Homo sapiens: one gene and its partners. The protein of the gene in region 1 interacts with the protein of each later gene in a biochemical or structural test. Each region holds a gene or a part of one and is shown on either strand. Other genes may lie near its edges.

The links.
Region 2: of the proteins of PRKAA1 (region 1) and PPM1E, one has a biochemical effect on the other in vitro, tested with the Homo sapiens proteins (one study listed by BioGRID).
Region 3: the proteins of PRKAA1 (region 1) and FNIP1 form a complex in vitro, tested with the Homo sapiens proteins (one study listed by BioGRID).

What each region holds. Positions count from the first base shown.
Region 1 is NC_000005.10:40,774,359-40,781,386, reverse strand, and holds part of PRKAA1 (5'-AMP-activated protein kinase catalytic subunit alpha-1), read left to right. Parts: exon of another isoform or gene 1-32; intron 33-1,048; exon of another isoform or gene 1,049-1,305; coding exon of another isoform or gene 1,306-1,354; intron 1,355-3,800; coding exon 3,801-3,942; intron 3,943-5,883; coding exon 5,884-5,977; intron 5,978-6,414; coding exon of another isoform or gene 6,415-6,459; intron 6,460-7,028. UniProt on the Homo sapiens protein: Catalytic subunit of AMP-activated protein kinase (AMPK), an energy sensor protein kinase that plays a key role in regulating cellular energy metabolism.
Region 2 is NC_000017.11:58,975,826-58,982,853, reverse strand, and holds part of PPM1E (protein phosphatase 1E), read right to left. Parts: intron 2,881-7,028; coding exon 1,823-2,880; 3' UTR 1-1,822. UniProt on the Homo sapiens protein: Protein phosphatase that inactivates multifunctional CaM kinases such as CAMK4 and CAMK2. Dephosphorylates and inactivates PAK. May play a role in the inhibition of actin fiber stress breakdown and in morphological changes driven by TNK2/CDC42.
Region 3 is NC_000005.10:131,668,018-131,675,045, forward strand, and holds part of FNIP1 (folliculin-interacting protein 1), read right to left. Parts: intron 4,908-7,028; coding exon 3,488-4,907; intron 2,615-3,487; coding exon 2,446-2,614; intron 1-2,445. UniProt on the Homo sapiens protein: Binding partner of the GTPase-activating protein FLCN: involved in the cellular response to amino acid availability by regulating the non-canonical mTORC1 signaling cascade controlling the MiT/TFE factors TFEB and TFE3.

The DNA of each region.
Region 1 (7,028 bases):
TTTTGATGGAATATATATTCTCCAGTAGGTTCCTGAGAAAGGGTGCACAAAGGTTAAATTTTTGGAGACTTAGCCTCATGACTGTCTAAATTCTACTGGTGATCATATCCCCAAAAGACCAAATCCCTAATGCCATAATCCCAAATGTTGAAATACTGAAAGATCAAAATCTCTAAAAATCAGAATCCCTAAATTCTAAAAATCTCACACATCTGAAATCCTGAAAATCAGAATCATGAAAGATTAAAATCCCAAATGTTGAAATGCTGAAAGCCAACACCTGGGGTAGAAATTAGTGCACATTCGGTTGTATGAAAGATAGTTGCATCATTTTACTTGCATCATATTAGGTGGAACCGATTGCCTTTTTATTGTATTTATTTGGAAATTAAGTATGGTTTAAGGAGATGGTTTATGGGTGCCAAATTGACGAGGGGTGGATTCATGGATTTAATTTTAGGTGTCAACTTGACTGGATTAAGAAATACCTAGAAACTTGTTAAAGCATTATTTTGGGTTTGTCTGTGAGGAGATTAGTATGTGAGTCTGAGTGGACTAGGTGGGGAAGATCTGCCCTCAATAGCGGTGGCCACCATTAAATCTGCTGGGGGCCCAGAGAAAACAAATTGTTGCCTTTCTGAGAGCTGGAACGGACTTTTCTTCTGCTGAATTGAACATCAGAACTCCAGGCTTGTTGGCATTTGGACTCTAGGACATACACCAGCAGCCCCCTGGGTCCTGGGCTTTCAGCCTCAGACTGAGACCTGGTTTGGCTTGGTTCTGAGGTCTTTGGACTGAGCCAAGCTACCAGCATGCCAGGGTCTCCAGCTTGAAAATGACCTGTCCTGGAACTTATCAGCCACTATAATCGCATGAGCCAATTCCCCTAATAAATCGTCTCTCATATATCTATGTATATATATATCTTATTGGTTATGTCTCTCAAGAATGCTGTCTGTCGAGAATTATGTCTGTCGAGAATGCTGACTAATACGGATTTGGTATTGAGAAAGCCAAATATCATTCCTTCTTACTGTATTCCTTACAGCACAGTGGAAGAGACCTGTGAAATTGTTCCCTTGCAAAAAGGCTGTGATAAATTAAGTATACCAGGCTACTTAATGCTGAAAGAGAAAAGTTTAAAAGCTAATTATTATTGGTGTTGTGAAGACAGAAAATCACTTAATTGCAATGGCCAAGCAATAACCAGATTTCTAAATGGTCAGCATATACTTACAAAATATTTAGACCACAACCGCTCTAGTCTAAACACAAGTGAATGTTTTGAAGATCATAGAAGTGAATATGCAGGTGAAAAATATAAGAAAGCTCCCCTGCCAAATTATTCAATCAGGTATGACTTCTGCCCTTTCACACATAGTGCCAATTTGCTATGCTATGTATTTTATCTTTGCATCATTTCTAATACTGCAGGTATAAATTCTGTAAAGGCTTTTAGAGAATTCTAATTCATTTTATGCACTTTTTTTTTGCATATTTGACTCCATGAAAGTGCATTATCACAATGTGACGTAATGTGTAAGCATTGTGCATGTACATAAAAATGTTGAAACTTGCTCAGTAAATGAAGAGATGTCCGTTTTGTTCATCTGTATTTGTGAAAGATAAAATTTCTCAAGATCTTGGCTCTTTGGGTGACTCTATTGCAGTTTTTGTGCAAACGGTAGTGACCCATTGCAGTTTTTGATCGATCTTGTCAGAAGATTCAGGTTGTCTGGTATTTCAGATGACCGCAGTTATGAATCTGGGTGCACCTGATTACCAACCATAGTGATACGTGTTTATCCATTTTGCTTTTTAATCTATTTCTTCATGAATACATTTTCTCTGTTCCTATTATACCCATGCAATGGTTGTTAGTATACCTGAGTATTTATGCTTGCAAAAATATGTTATTAGTGCCTATTTTATTGTGTAAAGGGGCCTATGAACTGTTCCGTTGTGTTTTTATGTTTCTCAAATAAATCTTTTAAAAATGGAAATAAGTGTCTTTTAGAGAACTTTTTACAAATTATTTTTCCAGAATTCAATTTTTTGGATTTTGTTCTTTTGGGATTGTGATTTTTGGAATTTTAGATTTTAGGGATTTTGATCTTTTGGGATTTCAACATTTGGGATTATGGCATTTGGGATTGTGTCTTTTGGGATTATGTCCTAAACCCAAATTCTGTCACCACCGACTGTCTAGTGATAACATTTAAAATGGAAAGATAAAATGACTTGATTTTTTTTTTCCCTTTATTTTTAACTGCATTTAAAAAAATAGAGGCTGGGCATGGTGGCTCACACCTATAATCCTAGCACTTTGGGAAGTTGAGGCTGGTGGATTGCTTGAACTGAGGAGTTTGAGACCATCCTGGTCAATATGGTAAAACATCATTTCTACAGAAAAATACAAAAAAATTATCTGGGTGTGGTGGGGCCTGCCTGTAGTCCCAGCTACTTGGGAGGCTGAGATGGGAGGATCACCTGATCACCTGAGCCTGGGGAGGTTAACGCTGCAGTGAGCTCTGATTGTGACACGGCACTCCACCCTGGGTGATAGAGTGACACCCTGTCTCAAAAAAAAAAAAAAAAAAAAAAAAATTAAAAAACAGGAAAAAAAATTTAAAACACAGAGAAACCAAAAAAACTAGAAACCACATGCACATGAACCAGAATTTCAAAGGTATAAGAGGTTATGGATGGGGAAATGTATCTATGACATGAGAGAGTCTTTTGGGATGATGGAACTGTTCTGTATCTGACTATATAATGCTGGTTACACCAATTTCTATATGTTTTAATATCCATATAAATGATACTAAAAGAAAAATTTTAGTCTGTGTGTATGATAGGTTAAAAGGTGAAAAATTAAAAGAATTTAAAAATACGAAAAGGTATACAGCAAAAAAGTCTCCTTCCCCTCTTCCTTTAGTCTTCTAGCTTTCTCTTCTGGAAGAAACCACTGTTACCAATTTCTTATGTATTCTCCTATGTAATCACTCTTAAACATCTGAACATTTGGGATGAATCTGGCAAAAGAGAAAATAACTTATATTTGCTTAGCTATTTTCTGAGGATGCTAGATGACTACTCTTATAATATGTCTAAATATATTATTATTTTTATTTTGTTGAGGCAGAGTCTCAATCATCACCCCAGACTGGAGTGCAGTGGTGCAATCTGGGCTCACTGCAACCTCTGCCTCCCAGGTTCAAGTGATTCTCCTGCTTCACCTCCCAAGTAGCTGGGATTACAGGCATGTGCCACCACTGCACCCAGCTAATTTTTGTATTTGTTTGTTTGTTTGAGACAGAGTTTTGCTCTTGTTGCCCAAGCTGGAGTGCAGTGGTGTGATCTCGGCTCACTGCAACCTCCGCCTCCTGGGTTCAAGCGATTCTCCTGCCTCAGCCTCCCGAGTAGCTGGGATTACAGCTGTGTACCAGCACGCCTCGCCAATTTTTTGTATTTTTAGTAGAAACGGGGTTTCACCATGTTAGCCGGGCTGGTCTCGAACTCCTGATCTCAGGTGATCTGCCCGCCTCGGCCTCCCAAAGTGCTGGGATTACAGGCATGAGCCACCGCTCCCGGCCATTAATTTTTGTATTTTTTAGTAGAGATGGGGTTTTGCCATGTTGGCCAGATTGGTTTCGAACTCCTGACCTCAAGTGATCTACTCGCCTCGGCCTCCCAAAGTGCTGGGATTACAGGCATGAGCCACTGCACCGGGCCAGAATATGTGTAAATATATTATTAATCATACTTAGTACTAATTTATTAAATTACTTCTTTTACAGTTGGCAAACATGAATTGACTGGGCATAAAGTAGCTGTGAAGATACTCAATCGACAGAAGATTCGGAGCCTTGATGTGGTAGGAAAAATCCGCAGAGAAATTCAGAACCTCAAGCTTTTCAGGCATCCTCATATAATTAAACTGTAAGCTCTGTTTATATTAAATATAGTCCAGTCATCTTTTCATCTTTTTTGTTAACCTACTTAATGTGACAAGTGAGAAAAATGACTGACACTTCTTTTTGTTTCCTAAGGGTTTTGAAAAGTTTCTTCCTAGGCTGTGTGCGGTGGCTCACACCTGTAATTCCAGTACTTTGGGAGGCTGAGGCAGGCGGATCACCTGAGGTCAGGAGTTCGAGACCAGCCTGGCCAACATGGTGAAACCCTGTCTCCAGTAAAAATACAAAAATTAGCTGGGCATGGTGGTGGGCGCCTGTAATACCAGCTACTCGGGAGGCTAAGGCAGGAGAATGGCTTGAACCTGGGAGGCGGAGGTTGCAGTGAGCTGAGATCGTGCCATTGCACTCCAGCTTGGGCAACAAAAGCGAAACTCTGTCCCAAAAAAAAATAAAAGTTTCTTCCCATTCATGTATTTTTCTAACCCCATTGATGGTCATTTAAGCCTGTGTTCATGTTTTGCCCTTGTGCTTATCAGCTGTTATCTTCTCATTCTTTCCTGTCTCCTGGAAAGATGCTCTTCTGGTAATGTTTGGTGCCCCATTGCTGTAAAACCAACAGTGATCTGCTAGTAAAAACTCTTGACCTCCAAATGCCCACATGATGTCAGTTAGCCTCACTAGTGAGAATGCGGTAGTAGAAAGGGTTTTTCCCCATCCTGCTTATACCTGAACATATAGATAACAAAATTTCAGGAATCCAAGGTTTCAAAAGGGCAGTAATCTTACTGTTGTTTTACAGTTGCCAGTTATAGAGTCTACAAATAACTATTTCCTGCTCAGCTTCTGCTTTGTTATGCAGGCAATAACTTAAAGATGCTTAGGTTTTTCTCCTGAACTGGCTGACTCAAACTTGTTTCACTCTTACCTCTTCTCATTTGTTGAGTGCTAGGTTTTAAATACCATCCATATGCTGACCACCCCTAAATGTACATCTCTTGCTTTAAGATCTCTTCTTACACCAGACTTATTTGCTCACTGCTGACTTTACATTTCCATTTGGATGTTCGCAAGACATTTAAAACTCAACCCGGCCCAAAATGAACTCTTTATTACTCTCCCAAACCTGCTCTTCCCACAGTTTTCACCATCTTGGCTAACAGCCAATGACCCAGGGCTAAAACTTAGGAACCATTTTTAACTTCCCTGTTTCTTTCACTTTCTACCATGCATTTCATTTCTTCCTTCACAATCAAGCTAGGATTTGATTGCTTCTCAGTTCCTTTATTGCTGTCAACCTGGTCTCAGCCACCATCTGTCTCATGAAATCCTGAAGTAACCTCCTGTGGCTACCTTTACTGTTGACAGTTAATTCTTCACATTGCTGCCATAGTTTTACTTTTAATATGCCAGATCACATGACTGCTTAAAACGTACGATAGCTTTTCATCTTCCTTGGAGTAAAAGCCAAAGCCTTATCATGGCTTGTAAAATTCTGTGTCTTCTGGCCTGCAGTTAACACCTTTGACTCTACATCCTATTTCTCTCTAATATTCCTCGAACATGCCAAGCAGGCTTCTACTTGGGGACCTTTGCAGTTGCTATTCCCTCTCCCAGTTTCGCTTTCCTCCTAGATAATTACATAATTTGTTCCCATTCTTCTTTTAGGCTCAGCTCAAATGTTACTTTATTAGAGGCTTTCCTTTAGCACTCTGTATACAAAGATTCCCCTTCATTTGCTTTATTTTTCTTCATAGCATGTTCCACCACCTGAGATATTGCTTATTTATTTAGTGTCTGTTTCCTGGTTCCTGGAACATGAACTCCATGAGAGCAGAGAATTTTTGTTTCCTGCAGTTTTTCTAGCTCCTAGCCTAGTACCTGGTATACTATAGGTGCTTAGTAAATATTTATTGAATGAATGAATATATGTGTTTTAATATTTGTAGACAATGTTTTCTCTCACCAGGTACCAGGTCATCAGTACACCATCTGATATTTTCATGGTGATGGAATATGTCTCAGGAGGAGAGCTATTTGATTATATCTGTAAGAATGGAAGGGTAAGCTGTTCTGCTTTAATTCTGTATGTATTTTGTAACTCCCCTTTATCCTTTACTAGCATCAAAATGTCAGCAACCAATTTTAAGAGGTCTATTTAATAACCAGTTCCCTTAGTCATATATTTGTTTAGAATCATAAACTATGTAGAACTAGAAAGGATCTTAAAGATTATCTCCTTAGCCTGTTTATACAGATGTGGATACTGAGCCTCGCGGCTTATATGATTGCTCACAGTAACGTGATTTATTAATGACGGAATTGGCTTGAGCCCCCAGAACTCATAATCCTCAGACTTATGCTTCCAGGGTATACAAATACTTTGAATATGTATCTTAATGTAATTAATCGTTACAAAATATATTATTATTACTTAAAGATCTAGGCCTTGCTAGTCAATTCTAGCCACATTTAAATTGCATTCATTTTTTGGTTTCAGAAATCTGATGTACCTGGAGTAGTAAAAACAGGCTCCACGAAGGAGGTAGGAATTAGATATAAAGAATTTACAGCTGGAAGGAACTTTGTAGGACATTTTGAACACTACCTTAAGTTACAGATACAAAAACTCAACACTGCCCTCTGCCCATACTTTTTCTCATACCCAGGTTATGTGGTATGCAAAAGCCCCTTTGTGGGAGAGCTGTAGCTAGCCCTGAAAAGAGAGCTTTTCTCTCAATTTTAAGTTATTTACATTACTCATTCATTTGTTCTATATAGCATGTCTATTTACTTTTATCAAAATCAAACTTATTAACCAAGTTAATTTTGATTTTACTATTTCTTAACATGATTCATTTCTATTTCAGGTACTCCCCTTTACTCCTGCTTCTCCTTACCAAAAAAAAAAAAAAAAAAAAAATTCTGCCTGGAGAAATGGGAAACAGGCACAATTGATATATATTTTTCTTATCTTTTCTGTTGTTGTTTATTTCTTGGTTTTACCTTGTGGGTATTTCTTCAGTTTTACCAGTTGAATATTAAAATTTCAGCACCCGTATTTTCTATTTCAAAAGTTTCTTATTTTCTGAAATTTTCATTTTTTTAGTCTGC
Region 2 (7,028 bases), on another chromosome or scaffold:
TATGAGTGAGGACCATGTGTGGGGCAAAGCCTCAGAATGATGAAAAGGTTCCGGCACTATAGTTGGGGCCATGTTGACTCCTTTTCAACCATTTGTCACAGACGTGAGAAGAAGAAATGACTTCAAAATCAAGAGAAAACAAATACTGAAAGTCTCTACTTACATCCAAATTTTAAAAAATAAAATCTGTAGATTAACAATCTGATCATTGCTAAAGTGAAGCTGTTTTTGTCTATTTGATATAGCTATACTGGTATCCAAAATATGCCAGTCATCTGTGTCTTTAAAATTCAGAGATTTTAGTCCTCTGTTATGGGCCTGGGGAACGTGTACTATCCTATAAACACATGATTAGGCGGGGGACACTTCTTAGCGAGAGCACTCACCCTTGTTAGTGAGCACTCCAGAGGGGCCACCCATAGGCATTGGCCAGGCTGGTCTGCTGTTGACTAGGGGAGGGTAACACTAAGACATTCGTGACTCTTAGAGAATCAGAGGCTGCTTCACTGAATGAATGAATCTGATAGTTTGTTGTCTTTAGTTGACAACATGCTTCTAACTAACTTGAAACTGCAGAAATAGCAAAAAGCAGACAGTTTCAAAATATCAAATATAACTAAATATTGAAATGAAAAGCACACGTCCTGTCTCTGCAGTCTGAAGCTACATGTAAGCAGGACACTCATGTGTCTTCCAATTACAACTAAACAGACCTGGCTGTCAGTAATCTGCATTCTCAGTGGCCTCTGGGCTCACTTTAGACAATACTTTCAGCCTCCTTCATTCCAATTACTTCACTACCTTGGGGGAAATAATTTTAGAGAAGATAAAAGTAGCATTTTTCATTCTCTAAAATCACTTTGTATTTTATAGTAGTACATGCCTTTGCTGTCTGAACTAAAAAAAGACAAAATATAGAAATGCTTTTGATTTTCTTTGTAAATGGTATTTTGACTCTATAGTGTATTTGTACCTGACATCATCTCCGTTAAAGCAGTTTTATTCCTGAGATGAGGGTACAGTGGAAAACACATTAGCATCATAGATTAAAACCAGTTGACAGCGGTCTCCTAAAATGCTAAATAATAAAAATTTCCACCAAAAGCACCATAACAGGTTATGAAACTCCCAAATAACTACAGCCCTAGGAAATATTTTTTAATTAAAAAAAGTTCACAATCTTTTATGTTACAGGAAAAAAATCCGTAAATCTTTCTGACTATAAACCGCCTCACAAGTCTGAGAATATGACACTTTTACACTGATTTACCACTTTCATTGTTATCAGTTAAAATCCATATGGCTTTTAGTCTTTTACCTACCCAAAAAGGTGAGGGGGCAGGGGGTTCCTTCATAGTGCCCAGGATTTTGAGGGACATTTCCCAACCAAATGTAATTCAGCATTAAATTTTCCACAGATAAATTAGGCACATCAGACCAGATTTCAACTGCATTGAGATTTCAACACTGTATATCCTGACTGAAATAACTAACTTGAAAGCTTCCACTAGTGACTGAAGGGATGGTGGGAAGGGGGTTGTGTATCTAGTGACATGAAGGATGGTGGGAAGGGGGTTGTGTATTGGTGTCGAGACACATCACAGGGACCAGCTGTGTAATTTTGCAAGTGAAACTGCCAATACTTCTTTTTAGATTGAAAACACTGTACTTTGAGTTTCCTAGAGATCTATTTACATTTAAGAATTGAGCCATCCATGGATTCATAATGAAGCACATATGTTTTAGAAATGTCTACCTTGTTTCTACTCTGATAGTGGTATTTTTATTGGGGGAGAGCTAGCTAACCTACTTGAAAGAAAAATTATTCTATTTTATAGCTCCAAGGAAGATCTGGGCATGGAATATCATGAGTCTTTCTGAGCTTCCTCATGTTTTCACTGTACCCTTTCCAACTATTTTGCCTCCATGGCAGAGAACTTCTTATCCTATTTCTCTTCCCACTTCCAGTAAGTGAGGACAGGCTAGTGCCTATTTTGTGGGAAGGCTCTTGAGCAGAGAGAAATGAATAAAACTTTGGATTAAACCTGAATCTGTGCCACTTCTTTGAGTAGTGGTGGCGTAAATGAGACAATCTAGAAACTCTGTTTCCCGGGGATTTGAACTGTTCATTTTCCAACCCTGAACAGACAGGAGACAAGCTCTGCATTCTGTATATCTGCTCCCCTGTTGAACCCAAATTGAAAGCAGTGGGAAACTCTCCAGCACCACTCCATTCAGGCAATGATGACTGAACTGATTTTTTCTCCATCATTAACTCATTAATAAGATTTGCTTTCTTTGGTGCACCAGGACCAAACATCTCAACTGGTAGCAAAAACTGGGCACTGTGAGGTTTGCTTGCTTCTATTTGTGTGAGATCTAGGTAGCCTGGGTCTTCCAGCACGTTGATTTGGGACCCTGGGCTCAGGCTAGTTCTATCAGTGAATGAATCCACACGCCCATCATAGCCTAGGTCGGCTGGTGCTGAGCACTGGTGCTGAGGCCAAGGGCGTTTGCACTCTCCATGATTCTCCTTATCATCCCCACCATCTTCTTGCCCTCCTTGAAAAGAGTTCTCTGTCCAATCTGATTCCTCACTAACATTTACAGCTTTGTTCATGTCCCTCAGGAATACCACAATAACCGTGATGTTATCACTTGACCCAGCATCACGAGCTGATGCCACTAATTTGTGGGCAACCATGCTGCTGTCTCCATTATTCTCTTTCAGGTGGTCGGACACAACTTTCACTGCCTCATCAGGGTTCACGGTGTCATAGAAGCCATCACAGGCCAGAATGAGGTAGTCTTCGGTCCCATCCAGAACAGTGGAGGCAGAATCTGCATCCCCACAGATATATGGCTTATGTTCAGCATCTCCTGCGGGAAGCAGAGTGTAGGGGCATCATTAGCATTTGTTTTACCTTGCATGCTAAGAACGTTTATGACCAATGCCATGACTCTGATCACAGCTTACTGGATTGTGAACTGACTTGACTGGAAAGAATTTATAAAATAGTTTTTGACAAAATACTTAAATTCTCTGGTAATCAGATCTGCTTACTCCTTACTCCCAGTTAAATAATTGCTAGTTACTGGGCATAAGTCCTTACCTAGCTTAGACTCTGAATCTGCACCTCTGGCTATGATTTAGGCTTAGCTGAGTGTAACAACAATGTCAGATCTAAAAGTTTGTTGCTGTACTGAAAAATTCAGTACACTGTGTAGGAAGACATGGTTGATTCAGTAGATCTGTTCTTTTGCAGGTGGTTTTGATTTAATTGAAATTTGAAAACAAGCCCACATTGAAAGAAGCAAACCAAAGCTCTGATCATTCTCTTCATTAAATAATTTTTGTTCTATTCTTGTTTAGAAATCAATAAATAGCTTCATGCTGCGAGCACGAAGGAAGGTTTGAGTTACACGAGATTTTATAAATCAAGTCTAACTCCCTTAAGCCAGGAGGAGTTATGTGGCTGACCCAAGGCCTCACACATGGGAGCTGAATGCAGTTTTCTTGATTCCCAACCCACTTGGCTTTCTATTTTTTAGTGGTGCTTTACCTGTAACTTCTAGAGAACAGACAAAATGTATGGCCATTTTTCTCTTATATTTAGAGACTGCCATATTCTTCATATGGCTCTGCTCATCGCCCCACTTCTGTCTTTATTGTTATTGTGCATTTCCCCACTCATTAACAACTGTGAGAACCCAAGGTCTTTCTGGGCCTTTCTCTCTTCCTTTTCTTGCTTAGCTTCGTCCTCTCACAGAATGACATCTGAGCTGGTCCTGAAGGGTAAGTTAGTTATCACCAGGCAGAGAAGTTGCCTCAATTGAGGGAACAGGATAAGCAAAGGCAGAGGCAACTGTTAGGGAGTAATGTACAGTTGGAGAGTAGGGTGCTTGGGGTAGGAGCGAGACTGCAGACCTTGGGACCACACTAAACTAGGTTTCTATCACCAGACTACTGAGATAATTGATCATTTAGGGCTTTCAGATCCAGAGCACTTCCAAATCCATTCATTGTTTACATTGATTACATTCCTTTAGGTACCTTGTGAGAGTGCAGCAAAAGGGTCCTTAGCCTATGAGGTAACCAAATAGCTTATGACTACAACAAGGGACTCTCAATTCACTTTTTTATTTTTATTTTTATTTTTTGTCGCCCAGGCTGGAGTGCAGTGGCACAATCTCGGGTCACTGCAGCCTCTGCCTCCCAGGTTCCAGCAATTCTCCTGCCTCCGCCTCCGGAGTAGCTGGGATTACAGGCGTACGCCACCACACCTGGCTAATTTTTATATTTTTATTAGAGACGGGGTTTCACCATATTGGCCAGGCTGGCGTCGAACTCCTGACCTCTGATAATCTGCCTGTGTCGGCCTCCCAAAGTGCTGGGATAACAGGCATGAGCCACCGCATCTGGCCTCTCATTCACTTCTTTACAAAAAAATAAAAACAAAACCACACACAGGGTACTGAGCAATAATTCCTAGAGTAGGGTATCATAAATCATCATTACATAGTATTATAAAAACAAGAAATAAACTCCAGATATTTACAAAGGGCTTTACTGTATAGCAGTGGCATATTGCTTAGTGGTTAAGGACACCAGCACTAGTGTCAGACTGCCTGGGTCCAAATCCTAGCTCTTCTACTTGTCACCTACACAACTCTCATCAATTACTATCCTTTCCATTGCACTAAAACCGAACTTTTTGACTCAGGGAATATTAAAATGAAGATAAACTCACTTGAGTAATCTGACTATATATTCATTATTTCTAGTATCTGTTATAGGTTCTCTTTGACACAAGAAAGTTGGCCAGGCGCATGCCTGTAATCCCAGCACTTTGGGAGGCCAAGGCGGGAGGATACTTGAGGTCGGGAGTACGAAGCCAGCCTGGCCATCATGGTGAAACCTTGTCTCTACTAAAAATACAAAAATTAGCCGGGCCTGGTGGCATGCATGCAAAGTCCCAGCTACTCAAGAGGCTGAGGCAGGAGAATTGTTTGAACCCAGGAGGCAGAGGTTGCAGTGAGCCCAGATTGCGCCACTGCACTCCAGCCTGGATGACAGAGGGAGACTCTGTCTCAAAAAAAAGTTTCTTTCCAACATTTAACATCCCTGTTTAATCCTCAAATAGGCTAGAAAGCTCATTAGGAACCCTATGGATAACTCTGCTAGAACCAATGTGGGCACATGCCCTATCTAGCAGGTTGCATGATTAGATACACAGAGCAACAAATAATTAATATAATTACCTGAGTTAGTATATCTATTAGGTAAGAAATTAGTCTTCGACATTATAAATGTTCATTTCACTCCTTCCATTCACAAACACAACCTCTCATCTTACTCATATCTAGGCTCTTCTCCATTCATTCATTCATTATTTCTTTTTTTTTTTTTTTTGAGACAGAGTCTCACTGTGGCCCAGACTGGAGTGCAGTGGTGTGATCTCAGCTCATTGCAACCTCCACCTCCCGGATTCAAGCAATTCTCCTGCCTCAGCCTCCCAAGTAGCTGGGATTACAGGCACGCACCACAATACCCAGCTAATTTTTGTGTTTTTAGTAGAGACAGGGTTTCACCATGTTGGTCAGGCTGGTCTTGAACTCCTGACCTTGTGATCTACCCACCTGGGCTTCTCAAAGTGCTGGGATTCTAGGTGTGAGCCACCGCGCCCAGCCCTCATTCATTATTTCTTACAGGAGTCAAAACCATCTTTCCCAAGCATGCTTTTGATTTAATCAACTTCACTTATATGCTAAGGTGCCTCCATAGCCTGTTAGAGCTCATTAAAACTCAATCTATTTAAGCAGAAAATGCAAAAATTTAAAAGATATTTAAAAATAAATAATAAATAAAATCCAATATGGGATTCAGTGTCCTTCACCAATTTACTAAAGTTCCCATCCCCTATTCTACCTGACTATATGATTATCATCATTATTATTTTTTGAATTCCGCCTCTAAAAATAAATGTGATCTGAGTCACACTGTTCCCAAAAATCTTGTTTTAGTGCTTCAATTAAAAGACTGCTGCAACTGTTAGTTTGGAACAGAACATACAAAGATTTGTACAGAGAAAATGCTGCCAAAGTTCTGGCTTTTCACCTGCTCTACTGTTGGGTGTCAAATTCATGACATTTCGCCCCCAAATTTGGTAGGAGGGCATGAATATCCATTTCATCGTAGAAATGGCAACATCCTTTTGTCTTCAACCTCTTCTCTCCATATGTTAGGAAACATATCATGCCTCTGTCAACTTTGGATCATAAATCTGAAGGGCTCATGGGGAGAAACTGTTGAAAACCTTTTCATTTTTATAAGTATCATTTCTTTCCTGAGTAGAGCTGAACTCTGCCCAGGAGTCCTTTTTCTTGTCCTTTTGCAGCCCCCCATTTTATTCCATGTGGTTTCCAATTCTTTCTCAAATTCTTCAACTCCCTCATCCACTTAAGCTACTGGATTTTGGTAAATGGCCTAATTTCCTACTTCAAAGACAAGTTGATCAGGCTTGAATTTTCTCAATTCCCCTCCCACCCTTGCCACACATGCACTGTTTAATCTGTAGAGATTCTCCCATATCAGCTACCATTTTCTCAGGGTAAGCAGTGTCCTTTTCCCATCCTAACAGTGAGCCTGTGCTGCTCTGGCTTCTCTACTCTCTCGTCTTCAATTTCTCCTCTACTTGCTCTCTTCCTTGTCCTACAAACATGCTCAAATCTAAAATCTCCTCGTCCTAAAAATAGAAACAATAAAAAGGAACCCTTTCCTGAATCAGCTTTTGCCTTAAGCCACCACACTATTTCCTTTCTCCCCTTCACCATCAAACTGCCCAAGAAACTAAATCTACACTTGCTCCTTTATGTTACTGCCTATTTCCAGTGCCAGATTGTTTGTTGATTAGTAGGTTTTCCCACCAACCAATCCATCTCATCAGTTGATACCCTCCTCCATATTCCTTTTTAGCTCTCCTCATCTCTGTAACAAACTGTATGAATGTCTCCCAGCCAGGCTCTTT
Region 3 (7,028 bases), about 91 Mb from region 1:
ATACTTCATTCTCAATAATTGATGGCAGAAACAAACTGAAAATCAGCACGGACATAAAAGACTTAATTAAGACTATTATCTAAAGGTTATCTAACTTGACCTGATAGCTATAGAACATTTCAACAAAAGCAGAATATATATTCTTTTCAAGTGCCATAAAACAGTCTCAATAAATTTACAAGAGGTGAACAAAGTAGGTTCTCCAACCATAATGGAATTAAATTAGAAACCAACAGCAAAACAACTTTTGAGAATTCCATAAATATTTGTAAATTAAACAGCATACTTCTAAATAACTCATAAGTCAAAGAAATTACAAGCAAAATGTAAAAACATTTTGAAATGAATGAAACTGAAAATACAACAGATCGAAATTTGTCAGATTTGGCCAGGTGCGGTGGCTCACGCCTATAATCCCAGCACTTTGGGAGGCTGAGGTGGGTGGATCACCTGAGGTCGGAGTTCCAGACCAACCTGGCCAACATGGTGAAACCTCATCTCTACTAAAAATACAAAAATTAGGCAGGTGTGGTGGTGGGCACCTGTAATCCCAGCTACTCCAGAGGCTGAGGCAAGAGAATCACTTGAACCTGGGAGGCAGAAGTTACTGTAAGCTGAGATGGCACCACTGTACTCCAGCCTGGGTAACAGAGCTAGACTCTGTCTCAAGAAAAATGAAATAAAATAAAATAAGAACAAACAGGAAATATTTTAGGTTTGGGGGCTGAAAAGTCTCTGTCTCAATAACTCAACTCTGCTGTTAGGCATGAACATAGCCAGAAGCATATAAATGAATGACTGTGGTTGTGTTCTAATAAAACTTCATCTATAAAAAGCAGGACAATTTGGCCCACTGTCCATAGCTTGCTAATCCTTGATGTATATGGGCAAAAAATATATACAATTTAAGTGAAACCACGAATGAACTTCTCTTTGGAGAAGCCCTCACCATTTGAAAAACAAACAAACAAAAACACACATTACAAAATTCAGGAACAAAAGAGGGGACATCACTAGCAACCTTATAAAAACTAAAAGGATTGTAAGTGTATAATATAAACAACTTGATTCTAGTAAATTAGGCCACTTAAATGCAACTAATAAATTCCTAAAAGACAAAAATTACCAAAATGGACTCAGAAACAAATAGAAAATCTAAATGTATAAAAGGTGAAGAAATTAAATTAGCAATTTAAAATATTCTTATTCTTAAAAGCCTGGATGCAGATGGTTTCACTAGTGAGTTCTACCAAACGTTTAGAGAAAAAAAGTAGTACTAATCTTCTGGAAACTCTTCCAGAAAATAGAGGATGTGCCAATATTATCCTGATATCAGAGCTAGACAAAGACATCACAAGAAAACTAAAAAGCAATATTTCTCATGAATATAGACTCCAATGTCCATAATAAAATATTGGTAAATCAAATCCAGCAACACATAAAAAAAATTATATACCATGACAGAGTGGGAATTGCTTCCTAGGAATACAATGGTTGGTTTAACATCTAAAAATTAATTAATGAAATCCATGACATTAATAGTTTAAAGATGAAAAATGACACGACAATACAATCTCAATAGACATTGAGAAAAAGCATATGACAAAATCCCACACTCATTCATGATTAAGGGATGGACAAAAAAAACCAAACCGTCTCAAAACTAGGAATAAAAGAGAACTGCCTGTCTCTAAAAGAAGTATTCGGTTAAACAAAATAAAAATAAAAAGGGAACTTCTTCCATCTAATAAAGGGCATCACAAAAACCTTACAACTAACAACATACTTAATCATGAAAGATGCAATGTCTTTCCCCTAAGATCAGGAATAAGGCAACGATGTCCATGGTCACCACTTCCATGCAACATTGTATTGAAAATTCTAGCCAGTACAATGAGTCAAAAAAAAAAAAAAAAGTTGGGGGCAGCGGGGACAAAAGGCATCCAGATTGTTAAGAAAGATTTAAAACTATCTGTTCACTGATAACATGAGCCTGTGTGTAGAAAACCTTAGGGAACCTATACAGAAAAATGAATAGACTAATAAGAGTTTCAGAAAGACCAAAGGATATAAGATCAATACACAAAAGCCAACCCCACTTCTATATGTAAGCAATGAGTAATCTGAAAAGGAAATTAAGAAAATAATTCCATTCAAACTTAAGCACTTGCAAATTTTTGATACTATAAATAACCTAGTTGATGGACATCCATGAATACATAAAGTACTTTCTGTATTTCAGATATCCATGTGGATAGATTTCTGGAACTTTATTTGCTTTCACAGTGACAGATACAAAGATACGGGCACTGAATATAAAATGATGGATTCAGAGAACAATGATTGTGTTGTAAAAAGTATGACCAAAAATATAAGGCAATTTTGGGTTCTGCTGCTTAACAGAGTTTCTTCTAAATAAACTCAAAAACAGTGAAGGTCACTCACCTGCACAGCATGAGATAAATCTGACATCAGACACTGACGGAACCTCTCATCACTCCCAATTCCTTGAAGAACAAAGTCAGGCACATAAGATGAGCAGTAGCCACCCAGCAAGGACCTCCCGAAGTTGGCAATGTTGGGCTGAACAGCACTCACTTCGATTAACTTTGACCTGGAAGAAAAATGCCCCCAAAAGACATTTATTTAGTAATAAATATATTTAACCAGTAAAAAAAAAAAAAAGTGAATTCTACTTGTCCATATTTTACACTAGTCTGTATTAAAATCAAGTGTAAAATCATCCTTATATAATGGTAACAATCGTAAAAATTAAGAGTAAAATGGTAATAATAGTAAAATCAAGAGTAAAATCATCGTTATTTAAAAACTGGCTCAAGTGCTCTATCAGAAAATAAAATACTCCTTCTTATTCAGAGAAGAAGGTCTGATGAGCAACTGAGTAATGAAGTGAGGATCAATCTTTCCTAAGAGACTTTAAGAGAATTGTACCTTGTGTTTGTAGCACATTCTTAATACAATCAGATTATGAAAACAATCATCTAAAACAAAACAATTAAATGCCTCACAAGTCCAAAGCTAGGTATGTAATGTTTCTCAAGCATGAATATTCTCCTTGCATACTTGACCCAAAGTATACATTCTCTGTTTTCCTCTTAGTCTTGGCCAAATCTATTTCTAACAGCTATTCTAACATCTCAGGGATTAGTGCTCCCTAACTGCCAGGCTCAGCATATGTCCTTTGGGGGGCATAAGTCACTCCTAAATGGCTTGAAACCTTCTAAGCAGTAAGAAATCTTATACTTATCAACCAGATCCTTTAACTTTTATTTGAGGTCTTCATAAAACCTTTCCAGGGTGTTTCTGGAGCTTAGCCTTTACTCCTTCTTATGAGTTAAGAGAATATGAAAACAAGAGAGCTATCCAGAACAATGATCTCTTTTATACTAACCTTCAGAGAACAGCTAAAAAAGAGAATGGTACATATTTATATAGGGCCCATTATAGGTGAAAACTTCCTACTTACCCAGGAAAAGGTATCTCATCCTCTTCTGCCCAATCTTCTTGCTCTCCTCCATAATAACTGCTAACTTGTCTAGTCATATCATGACCTGTATCTTCACTTTCACTATCCCCAAGGGCACTGTCTGAACTTTCATTTCTTGGAATGTCCCATTCAGTTCCTACAGCAATTTTTTTATCTGAACTCTCTTTATCCCCATGGGGGACAAGAATGGAGAGTGTATCTCTTTGGTCCTGCTGAGGAAAGCAGGTTTTACATGAATCTTGGGGAACTGTTTCTATACATTTACAAAATTCATTGTTCTGCTTGTTATTTTTTGTACACAATATTTTTGAAAACTCTAACATACAGCAATGGTCTTTACTATCTGTACTTGTTTTAAATGGAACATCATCAATAGTCCTGGTTTCGATTGAATCATCATTAAAATATTCGTCGAATAAGCTCATGCTTTCTGGGTCTGAATGATTCCAACAGGGAAGTTCACAGGGCTCTTCAGAAACCATGTTCTGTGTATCAGACTCTCCAGATTGGTCCTTGGTTGTTTGTTTAGTTTCTTGATGCTGATCAATAGCCCCTCTTTCTTCCTTCAATGGTTTGGTGTGATGTCTGGTAATCTGATCCACCACTGCCTGACTTCGAAGCTCAGTATCTGAATCAGGTGACATAGAATCCCCAATCAGGAAAGTAACCTTTGTCTGGGCAGCCTCACAAGAAAATGAAGCAGGCACAATCTTATCTGGAGGTTTTTTTTCCACAACCATTCCTGTGGATCTCATTGCTTTGCCTGTGTGACTGTCTGAATCCAGCAACTTCTCACTCTGCCATGTTTCCTCTGTTGACTCTAAGCCTGACTCTGACAATGCACATTTGTCTACTGGAACAGATCCTGTGCAAACAACTGTCTCTAACTTGGCGTCAAAGCAAGTTCTTAATTTATCTCTGTACTGTTTAACATCAACAGCATTTTCTTCTTGGCAGTCAGAAGGAGAAATCATCTGGCACTCATCTGAAATTCCTAGCAGCTCCTTAGAGCTGTTTTGAATATCTTCTCTCTCTTGTTGTGAAATGTTCTCTACATTTTGCCCAAGGAGTGGATGACTGCAATATTTACAGTTACAATTGGGAGTTCTAATTTCTTCTGACTCTTTAAAGAGCAAACTGCTTTTGTTTCTATGCATTGTGACAAGGACATACTCTGATTCTTCTATTTCACCTTTCTCTAAAGTGGTAGTAATTACTGTGCCTGGCATAACGATGGCTTCATCTTCTCCATTTTCTAAAAGATGCGTTTCTTGAAGTTCAGAGCATCTTATAAAATAAGTAAGAAAATAAAGTAGCCTCTGGACCATGTCTTGTCGTTTGCCAACTACCACAGTCCTTGCTAACCGTACGGGAGAGCCAATAGCGCCATACAAGTCTCCTGTAATGGAAAAAATCAGTTATTGGACATGTCCTTTACTGACACAGCTAAGTAAGCTATTTTTAATGATCAGAAACCTACTTCTTTTACTGTATGAGTAATAGTTTAGGTTTTACTCGTTTTTTTGTTTTTTTTTTTTTTGAGACAGGGTCTCACACTGTAATCCTGGCTGGAGTGCAGTGGTACAATCATGGTTCACTGCAGCCTCAGCCTCCTAGGCTCAGGTGATCCTGCTACCTCAGCCTCCTGAGTAGCTGGGACTATAAGCGCGTGCCACCATGCCTGGCTAATTTTTTGTATTTTTTTTTTTTTGTAGAGACAGAGTTTTGCCATGTTTCCTAGGGTGGTCTTGAGCTCCTGGGCTCAAGCAATCCACTGGCCCTGGCCTCCCAAAGTGCTGGGATTACAGGCGTGAGCCACCATGCCTGGCCTCACTCTTAGTTCTTTAACAGATGAGTGACTATTCAAGGGAGGAAGATGAGATGAATAATCTTAACCAGAGAGAAAGGTGAATTTAAGGGTTTTCTGGTTTCCTCTTTAAACAAATGCTATGGTTCAGAAACCTCAAGCAAAGAGTCAGTTCTGAAACTCACATATCCCAAGAATATTCTCTAACCCAGGCTCCATGCAGAGCATTTTTACCTTGTTAGAGAAGTACTGCCTGAAGTACTATGTACACAAGGATTCTGTAGCTGTGTCCAATCAAGAAAAGACAAAGCACAATATCCACTGGCTTGCAAGGAGAGGAAAGGAGTAGTGGTAAAATGGAGCAAAGCTATAGTCGTCACACCACACACTTAACCATTCCTGATTTAAATCATATCTCTGGGGCCGGGCACAGTGGCTCACGCTTGTAATTCCAGCACTCTGAGAGGCCGAGATGGGTGGATCACTTGAGACCAGGAGTTCAAGACCAGCCTGGCCAAGATGGTAAAACCCTGTACCTACTAAAAATACAAAAACTAGCCAGGTGGTGTCGTGGGCACCTGTAGTCCCAGCTACTTGGGAGGCTGAGGCTGGAGAATTACTTGAACCCAGGAGGCAGAGGGTGCACTGAGCCGAGATGACACCACTGCACTCCAGCCTGGGCAACAAGAGCAAGACTCCGTCTCAAAAAAATAAAAATAATAAAAAATAAAAAGAAATAAAATAAAAAAGTAAGTCATATCTCTGAACTTTAACTGTTGTTCCTCTAGCCAGCACCCCACCCCACCAGCTCCCATGTTTGTAAAAGCCTATTTTCCCCTTCCATTCCCTAGAGGGTTGGGTACTCAGGATAGGCCAGAAAGGGCAGGAAGAGAGAGACTCATCCTTACTAAAAGGAAAAGAAAGGGCAACAAGTTCAGCCATGCAGTTCATTTTCACTTTTGAATCCATTCTAAACATGACTAGCCATTATGTTAAAAGCAGGGGAGGTGAGGGGGGCAGGACTAGAAATTAGCATTTCTATATTTATGCTATACTTCAAATTAAACCAGTAATTTCAGTGCCAAAACTATGGAGAATAGGGCTGGGCATGGTGGCTTACACATGTAATCCCAGCATTTGGGGAGGTGGAAGCAGGCTGATCACTTGAGCCCAGGAGTTCAAGACCAGCCTGGGCAACATGGCGAAACCCTTGTCTCTACAAAAAAATACAGAAAATTAGCTGGGCATGGTGGCGCGCACCTGTAATCCCAGCTACCTGAGAGGCTGAGGCGGAAGAATCACCTGAGCCCAGGAAGTTGAGGCTGCAGTGAGCTGTGATCGCACCACCACACTCCAGCCTGTGCAATAGCGTGAGACCCTGTCTCAAGAAAGAAAGAAAAAAAAAGGAGAATACAAAGCCATTAATTTCAACTTAATTCAATTTTTGAAGTTGTCAGTATACACATTTAAAATCCTCTATTTTTACTTTACAAAGCCCTCACACTTTTTAAAGGAACAAATATAAATAGGTCTCAAATAAATATAAGCTATAGATACTATTATGATAAATTTTCTCTTCTGGCTAACACACTGGCTCAAATATCACCATGCCACTGTTCTAAACTACTCCCATAATTCCCACAAATTACCAAGTAAGTTGAAATTGCTTTGGCATGGCAAGTGAGTCTTTCATGATTCCCACTTTACTTTTCC